Linked DNA regions of Homo sapiens. The protein of the gene in region 1 interacts with the protein of each later gene in a biochemical or structural test. Each region holds a gene or a part of one and is shown in the gene's direction. Other genes may lie near its edges.

Region 1 (3,211 bases):
CCGAGGCTCGAGGAGGCGCCCGGCGGCCAGGGGCGGCCCGAGGCCGGCAGGCCCGCCTCGGAGGCCAGGGCGCCCGGGCTCGCGGCGGCAGACGCGGCGGACGCGGCGCGGGCGGGCGGGAAGGAGGCGCCCCGTGCGGCGGCGGGCTCCGAGCTCTGCCGGCGCGAAGGCCCGGGGGCTGCGCCGGCGTTTGCCGGCCCGGGCGGCGGCGGCAGCGGCGCGCTGGAGGCCGAGGGCAGGGCGGGTGCGCGCGCGGGTCCCCGGCCGGGCCCGCGACCCCCGGGGGGCGCCCCGGCGCGCAAGGCCGCCGTCGCGCCGGGGCCCTGGAAGGTGCCGGGTTCTGACAAGCTGCCCAGCGTCCTCAAACCCGGCGCCTCGGCCGCCAGCAGATGAGCCGCGCGGCCACGGCCAACCCGCCCGCCCCGGCGCAGGCAGTTCTTCTTAGGTTCCGTCTCACGGCGTTTTAATTTATTTTCACTGTCACACGCATAGATCCACGAGGCACCAAGGCCTGGGAGCATCGACGTGAAGTCCCACGTGTCCGGTGTGCTTGGGCGGCATCGCATCAACGCGCAGACCTAAACTGATCCTAAAGCCCCCGGTTCCCTTGTGGGGGCTTTGGCAGCTATGGAAGAACCAAAATAACGTGAAGAACATCACAGAGAGACAGTGCAGTGTAGCTTTAGTTTAAGAAAAAAAAATATTCCTCCCCACTGCATGAAGGACTTGGATGTCATCCAAACTTTATATCAAGAAACAGGACAAAGTTAAGAGCAATCACAAACTGGAATATCGCCTTAAAAATCAAACTGCACGGAGCAAGCTGAAACTGAGACAAGATTATATCTTTTAATTGATCTAAAGCGTTGTAAATAAATTGTTCTCGACATATCTAGACAGGGGTTAAAGGGTTTCTTTGACACATTCGGAACCGTTCACCCATGACATGTTTCCATGGCTCACCCTTGGCATCCATCCTCGGTGTTAGCAGCAGCGTTCCCTGCCTCCTGCAGGATGACTTAGAAATCTAGTGAGTTTCTTGGTGTGATGCCATTTTTATTGCCCTTTCTGTGATCAAATCATATTTCTGTACATTTTCAGTGGTAGAAAAAAAAGGTTTTAAAAATTGTATCCTAGGGAACAGTTTGCCATAAGTCAGAATTTTGCAGTTTAGCTCATAGATCTTAATTGGTTTTTCTCTAAAATATGAATTTTATAATTGAAGGACCACAATTTGTTTAATCAAGATAGGCAACGCTGCAGTTCCTTTATGAAGAGGCTTTTCTGTCGTCCCAGGCTAGCAGAGATGGATAGCTTCTTTGTCAGCAATGTGATTTCACTTATTTTATTGTCTTATTTTAAACCCTGTCTCCATGACTTCATTTGCACTTTGACAGAGCAGAGGCAGAGTATTTGTCTTATATTTCTCAGATTATAATATTAAAAAATTACAATCAATTTATTTTCATTAAAGAACGTGAGTCTTTTTAGCATTCCTTTCTGCTTATCCTTCTTTCCTTACCCTTTGTCCTTTTGTTTCCATTAGTTTTCTTTCGTCTTGTATTCCTTGCCACTTTATTTTGTTAGCAACTTCTAGATGTTTATCTTCATGGATCTATGATTGACCTCCTAGTAAAATTCTAAGTCTTGCCTTTCTTCCCTGCTGTTTTAGCATTTCTTTGTAAAATGTTAGCTTCAATTAATTAGCCATTGGTACTTACTGTAGCTACACATATTAAAAGGCAAAGTGTTTCTGAAGGCAATTTCTTTTTAATATGCCCGAATGAATGAGGCTTCATCCTTTCCATATTCTTACTCTTTACAGGAGTTCAAATGCAAATAAGCTCCACCTCCCTGCACTTGTAGTCTAAAAAGTAAAAGGGGCGATCAGGTCCATCTCAAAGGTCACACGTAATAGCCTCCCTGGGCTGATCATTCCCTCTCCTTGTAATTGCAGTATCCTGAGTAGCAGTTTAATTTTCATCAAACATCGGAGTAGTTTAGTTGTTTGACAGGAGGAGAATAAGGCTGAAAGCCTCAAGTGAAGGATCTTGCAGCTTGTAAAAGCAATTTCCAAAAATGAAACCCATTCATCGTAAACAAAAGCACAAACACTTGTAGCAGTTTATAATGCTTTTGGTTTAATCTCAATTAGTCTTTCTCCCCTGGACTAGAAATCCAGTATAGTTTGCCATTAATTTATTGAATCTGGTTTTGGACAATGCTTCTGTAGTGTAGCTGCACGTCCTGGTACTGTATCCTCTGACTTTATTTTCCATGTATTACAAAAGGAAAAAAAAATTGAGATTACACTGGCATAAACTCTAGTTTGCACAGTTCACAGCTACTACTTGTGCAGTAATTGCTTTATGCGGCTGTAATCCATAACCTGTGAAGACAGCACATCATCTAAATCCCATTCCAAATAATATTTGTGTAGTGTTAGCTGTGAATTTACCCTGTACAGCTGTATCTCTATAAATATAATTCCATGTATTAATAGTCACAGAAAGACTGTAAGTGAGCAACTATTTTTATGAAACGTACCACTATGGATAAATTAACTTTTACAGAAATCTTGTTTACTGTATGATATTCTAAAACACTGTCAAATAAAATATATATCCAAAAATCTTTTCTTTTTCCAACTATATAGGCTGTGTGTTAATTTGAAATAGATTATTACTGGGGGTTAACTTAGTTTTTCAAAACTGCAGTTTTCATCGACTTTTTTTATTTTTGGAAGTATAAGTTTTAATGCCCCAAATAGGACTTTTTTGAAACTTGAATCTAAAAGCAGTGGCATTACATGGGAAAGATCATTGGCTTTTTTGGCCTAAGTAAACAGTTTTCTCAGTCTTGTTGATATTTGCTTGTCAGGTTACTACATCATTCATGAATTGGCTGTATATTTCTGTTGCTTGCTACATTGATCGATACTTTACCTTTTTTCAAAAAGGATTTAAAGTATCCATCTGTAATAAATTCCATCACATTTTTTCCTTTTAATTCTGAAATTTTCTCATGCAAAATCCCAAGGAGTTCATGCAGAAGCCAACATAGCAAGCAGCAGTGAACTGGTCCAAAATGAATGGTTGAATATAGCTTTTGTCATGTATTGCGATGCCTGTGGTAGGAAGGGAGAGTTCTGCTTGGCCCTTGGGTGATTACAACCCTGCCATCGAGGAGTTGACGATCGGAAGGAACAGTT
Region 2 (3,754 bases), on another chromosome or scaffold:
TGGAGGAAGGGATCCTGGTGGCCTGGGCTGTTCTCTGACCTGAATTGGGGCTTCTTTGGTTTACAAGGGATACTAGTTCCTGGAGGGACGAAGGAGGCTCTGTTTGCATTCTCTGGCCCCTCCCATTTGAATAGGCTGTGATTTTTTAGTTGCCTGGGAATTTTTGGATTCAGGGTTCAGAGACCATCCTCCCATGACTCAGCCTCACTTTGTTCAGCTTGCTGGTTCATCCTTAGCCCTCCCCAAGTCTGGTCCTCTCACCCATCCCCACTAGGTGGATCAGCTGAGGACAGAGCTCATGCAGGAAAGGTCTGCTCGGCAGGACCTGGAGTGTGACAAAATCTCCTTGGAGAGACAGGTGATGGGGGAGGGGAGGATTCTTAGGGATGGACCCCAGGAGGTGAGTAAAATGGCCAGTGGAGTGCTAACTGTGGAGGCTTCCTGTCCCTCTCAGAACAAGGACCTGAAGACCCGGTTGGCCAGCTCAGAAGGCTTCCAGAAGCCTAGTGCCAGCCTCTCTCAGCTTGAGTCCCAGAATCAGTTGTTGCAGGAGCGGCTACAGGCTGAAGAGAGGTGACATAAGCCTATCCTTCCTCCCTTCCTCCCTCCTTTTCTTCCTCCCTCCCTCTTGGCTTTTCTCCTCTGTGGCTCCCTCCATCTTCCACCTCAGATATGGCCAGCCTGGCCTGATCTTTAGGGAACACTTTCTCCTGATAGAGAGCAAAGAGTGTTGCAGAAATTCTGAAATGTGAATGACGTCACTCTCCCTCATTCTTTGAATCTGCCCTGGATCCTGCCCAGTCTAATGGTGGAGCTCATGGCTGAGAGGAGTCCTTGGGGACAGTAGGGGGCCAAGTTAGGATTCCCTTAGAAATGGGGACACTCATAGACATTCTTCTACCTCACCTTAGGGAGAAGACAGTTCTGCAGTCTACCAATCGAAAACTGGAGCGGAAAGTTAAAGAACTATCCATCCAGATTGAAGACGAGCGGCAGCATGTCAATGACCAGAAAGACCAGGTGAGGACATGGCACCCTGGAGCCAAGCAACCTGGGGCAGGTATATATTATATGTTTTCCTGAAAGCCAAGGGAGGCCCTTATCTCCTATAGGTCCTCCAAACTTAGACTTTCCTTGTATAAGGACAGAGATTAGATTGAAAAGACTAGACTAGAGAAGTCATGGTAAGCGTATATATTGAGTGCTTATGATGTGCTAGGTTCTGTAAGTATTACACATGTGTTAATACATTTAATCCCTAAGACAACCATGTGAGGTTAAGGAACTTGCCCAAGGCCACATTTTTCCAGCGGCAATTATACCTTGTCAAGATTGTTATGGGGGAGGGTCCCAGGCCATGGTAGTAGATGCTATTCAGATGTGTGGACTTGGTATCCTGCCCAGCTAAGCCTGAGGGTGAAGGCTTTGAAGCGTCAGGTGGATGAAGCAGAAGAGGAAATTGAGCGACTGGACGGCCTGAGGAAGAAGGCCCAGCGTGAGGTGGAGGAGCAGCATGAGGTCAATGAACAGCTCCAGGCCCGGATCAAGTCTCTGGAGAAGGACTCCTGGTATGGGCTACCCTTTTGCCCTTGCTCCATAGGGACACTAGAGCAGGGAGGGAATGGTCTCTCCTGTGCTGGATAAGGAGGAGAATCTCTAACATGGTACTGTGTAGTCACTTGTTTCTGGTTGGAAGCCAGTATATTTATTTATTAGTATCTCAGCCACCATCCTGTACCTCCCCAAATCTGATTAGTTGGGGATTTTGTGAATAAACTTTAGGCCTTAGAAGAATTGGGGTTTCCTTTGTACAAAAAGGGTGGCTGTCTTAATATTTCTATTTTCCCCTCCCCAACCATTATTCTTCTCTCTGAGTCAGGCGCAAAGCTTCCCGCTCAGCTGCTGAGTCAGCTCTCAAAAACGAAGGGCTGAGCTCAGATGAGGAATTCGACAGTGTCTACGATCCCTCGTCCATTGCATCACTGCTTACGGAGAGCAACCTACAGACCAGCTCCTGTTAGCTCGTGGTCCTCAAGGACTCAGAAACCAGGCTCGAGGCCTATCCCAGCAAGTGCTGCTCTGCTCTGCCCACCCTGGGTTCTGCATTCCTATGGGTGACCCAATTATTCAGACCTAAGACAGGGAGGGGTCAGAGTGATGGTGATAAAAAAAAAAAATCATCAGCAATAAGCTGATAGATGGACTTTCCACTGTAGGAGTGGACATTTCAAGCCAACTGAGCCTTTTCCTCAAGTGCCGACACCTCCCTCATCTCTCTTATAGTGGAAGGATGGTCAGCATTAGGCTGATGGGGACTGAGAAGGATAGGAAGGGATAGAAATTGCCATGTGTATAAAGCTTTATTCTTTAGCCCTTAACCCTAAGGCTCAGGGAAATACCCTATGTTATTGTGCTCCCTGGATTCCTGCAACTCATTTTCCTTCCACTCTGGAGCAGGGTGAGGGGAATGTTATGGGTAACAGACATGCAGGCATGGCTCTACCCATTTCTTTGCACAAGTATGGGGCCCATGTGGTAGTCCCCATACCCCTCCAGTTCCTATATTTTTGTCTTCTTCCTTTCCCCTCTTTGCCATTCCTACCTTGCATTTTTCCTGTCAGTGCCTTAGCCAAGGCAAGGAGATAAGGATGCTCTTCTTGCTTTTTATATCTGCACATTCATACCTCTCCAAAGACCAGCTTTTCCCCAGCCAGGGCCCTCAGCCTTCCCTGCTGCCCCAGTGATTGATTGAGAGAGCTGTTGGGGTTTCTCTGCCAATGACCCCTGGGAGAGGGACTTTGGTAGGGTCATGATAAAGTGGCGGGGGTCTGGTCCTGCTCAGGGTTTTCATCCTTCCTCCTCTCCCTCCTCTGTGACTGTGGATATGGTTATAAGGTGGTTGCACCTGGGAGCCCTGACAACTGGCTGCACAAATTCCAAAAGTAAAGGTGTCAGTCCCTGTGGCCTTCCTTGGGGCTTCTCTGACCACATGTGCCCAACTTCAATAAGAGAACCAAGGGACCCTCATTTTCTGAGGTGCTTGGCTCTGATTCAGGGCTTTGCAAGGGGTTAGAAGCTGACTGTAAAAATGGGAAGAGGCAACGGAAGACATTTATTTCTCCTTTGGATTTTGGGGAGAACCAAGCCCTGGTAGGGAAGAGGTAAGGGGGATGATTCACCTCCATATTTCCTAAGCAGGTTGTATAGGGAGCCGGTGGCAGGAGGAAGGCTGTTTTCACAAATGACTTGTAATGTCGTGATTAAAAAAATTCCTATATTCTTCTGCAAATCAAACGTTCTTTCCCAATCCAATCCAGCCTTGGTTTTATTTTAAATTAAATATTAAAATTACACATTTATATTGAAATCCTTGGTTTGTCTTCTCATTCTTTTTCTTGGCATATTTGGAGGTCCAGATTTTATGAAGTCATATTAACTGTACAGCTTAGGAGCCGAAGCTGGAGTTTTCTTCACCTGACTTTTCAGAGGCCCTTTAGAACAGAGCAGATGGGACCTACGAAACCTGGAGATGTTTATAGCAGCCCCATTCTCTTCTCTCCTGAACAACCTTCTGGGAAGAACAAGGACAGTAAATGCCTTTTTTTTTTTTTTTTTTTTGAGACGGAGTCTCACTCTGTCACCCAGGCTGGAGTGTAATGGCATGATCTCAGCTCACTGCAACCTCTGCCTCCCGGGTTCAAGCGATTCTCCTGCCTCAGCCTCCTGAGTAGCTGGGATTACAGGCGCGTGCCTC

Evidence for each region. The genes of interacting proteins can lie anywhere in the genome.
Region 2: the proteins of MAGI2 (region 1) and CGN interact in a test that uses a peptide from one of them, tested with the Homo sapiens proteins (one large-scale study listed by IntAct).

The regions. Positions count from the first base shown.
Region 1 is NC_000007.14:78,016,497-78,019,707, reverse strand, and holds the end of MAGI2 (membrane-associated guanylate kinase, WW and PDZ domain-containing protein 2), read left to right. Parts: coding exon 1-393; 3' UTR 394-2,653; downstream 2,654-3,211. UniProt on the Homo sapiens protein: Seems to act as a scaffold molecule at synaptic junctions by assembling neurotransmitter receptors and cell adhesion proteins. Plays a role in nerve growth factor (NGF)-induced recruitment of RAPGEF2 to late endosomes and neurite outgrowth.
Region 2 is NC_000001.11:151,535,326-151,539,079, forward strand, and holds the end of CGN (cingulin), read left to right. Parts: intron 1-274; coding exon 275-358; intron 359-454; coding exon 455-573; intron 574-911; coding exon 912-1,020; intron 1,021-1,404; coding exon 1,405-1,568; intron 1,569-1,879; coding exon 1,880-2,021; 3' UTR 2,022-3,367; downstream 3,368-3,754. UniProt on the Homo sapiens protein: Probably plays a role in the formation and regulation of the tight junction (TJ) paracellular permeability barrier.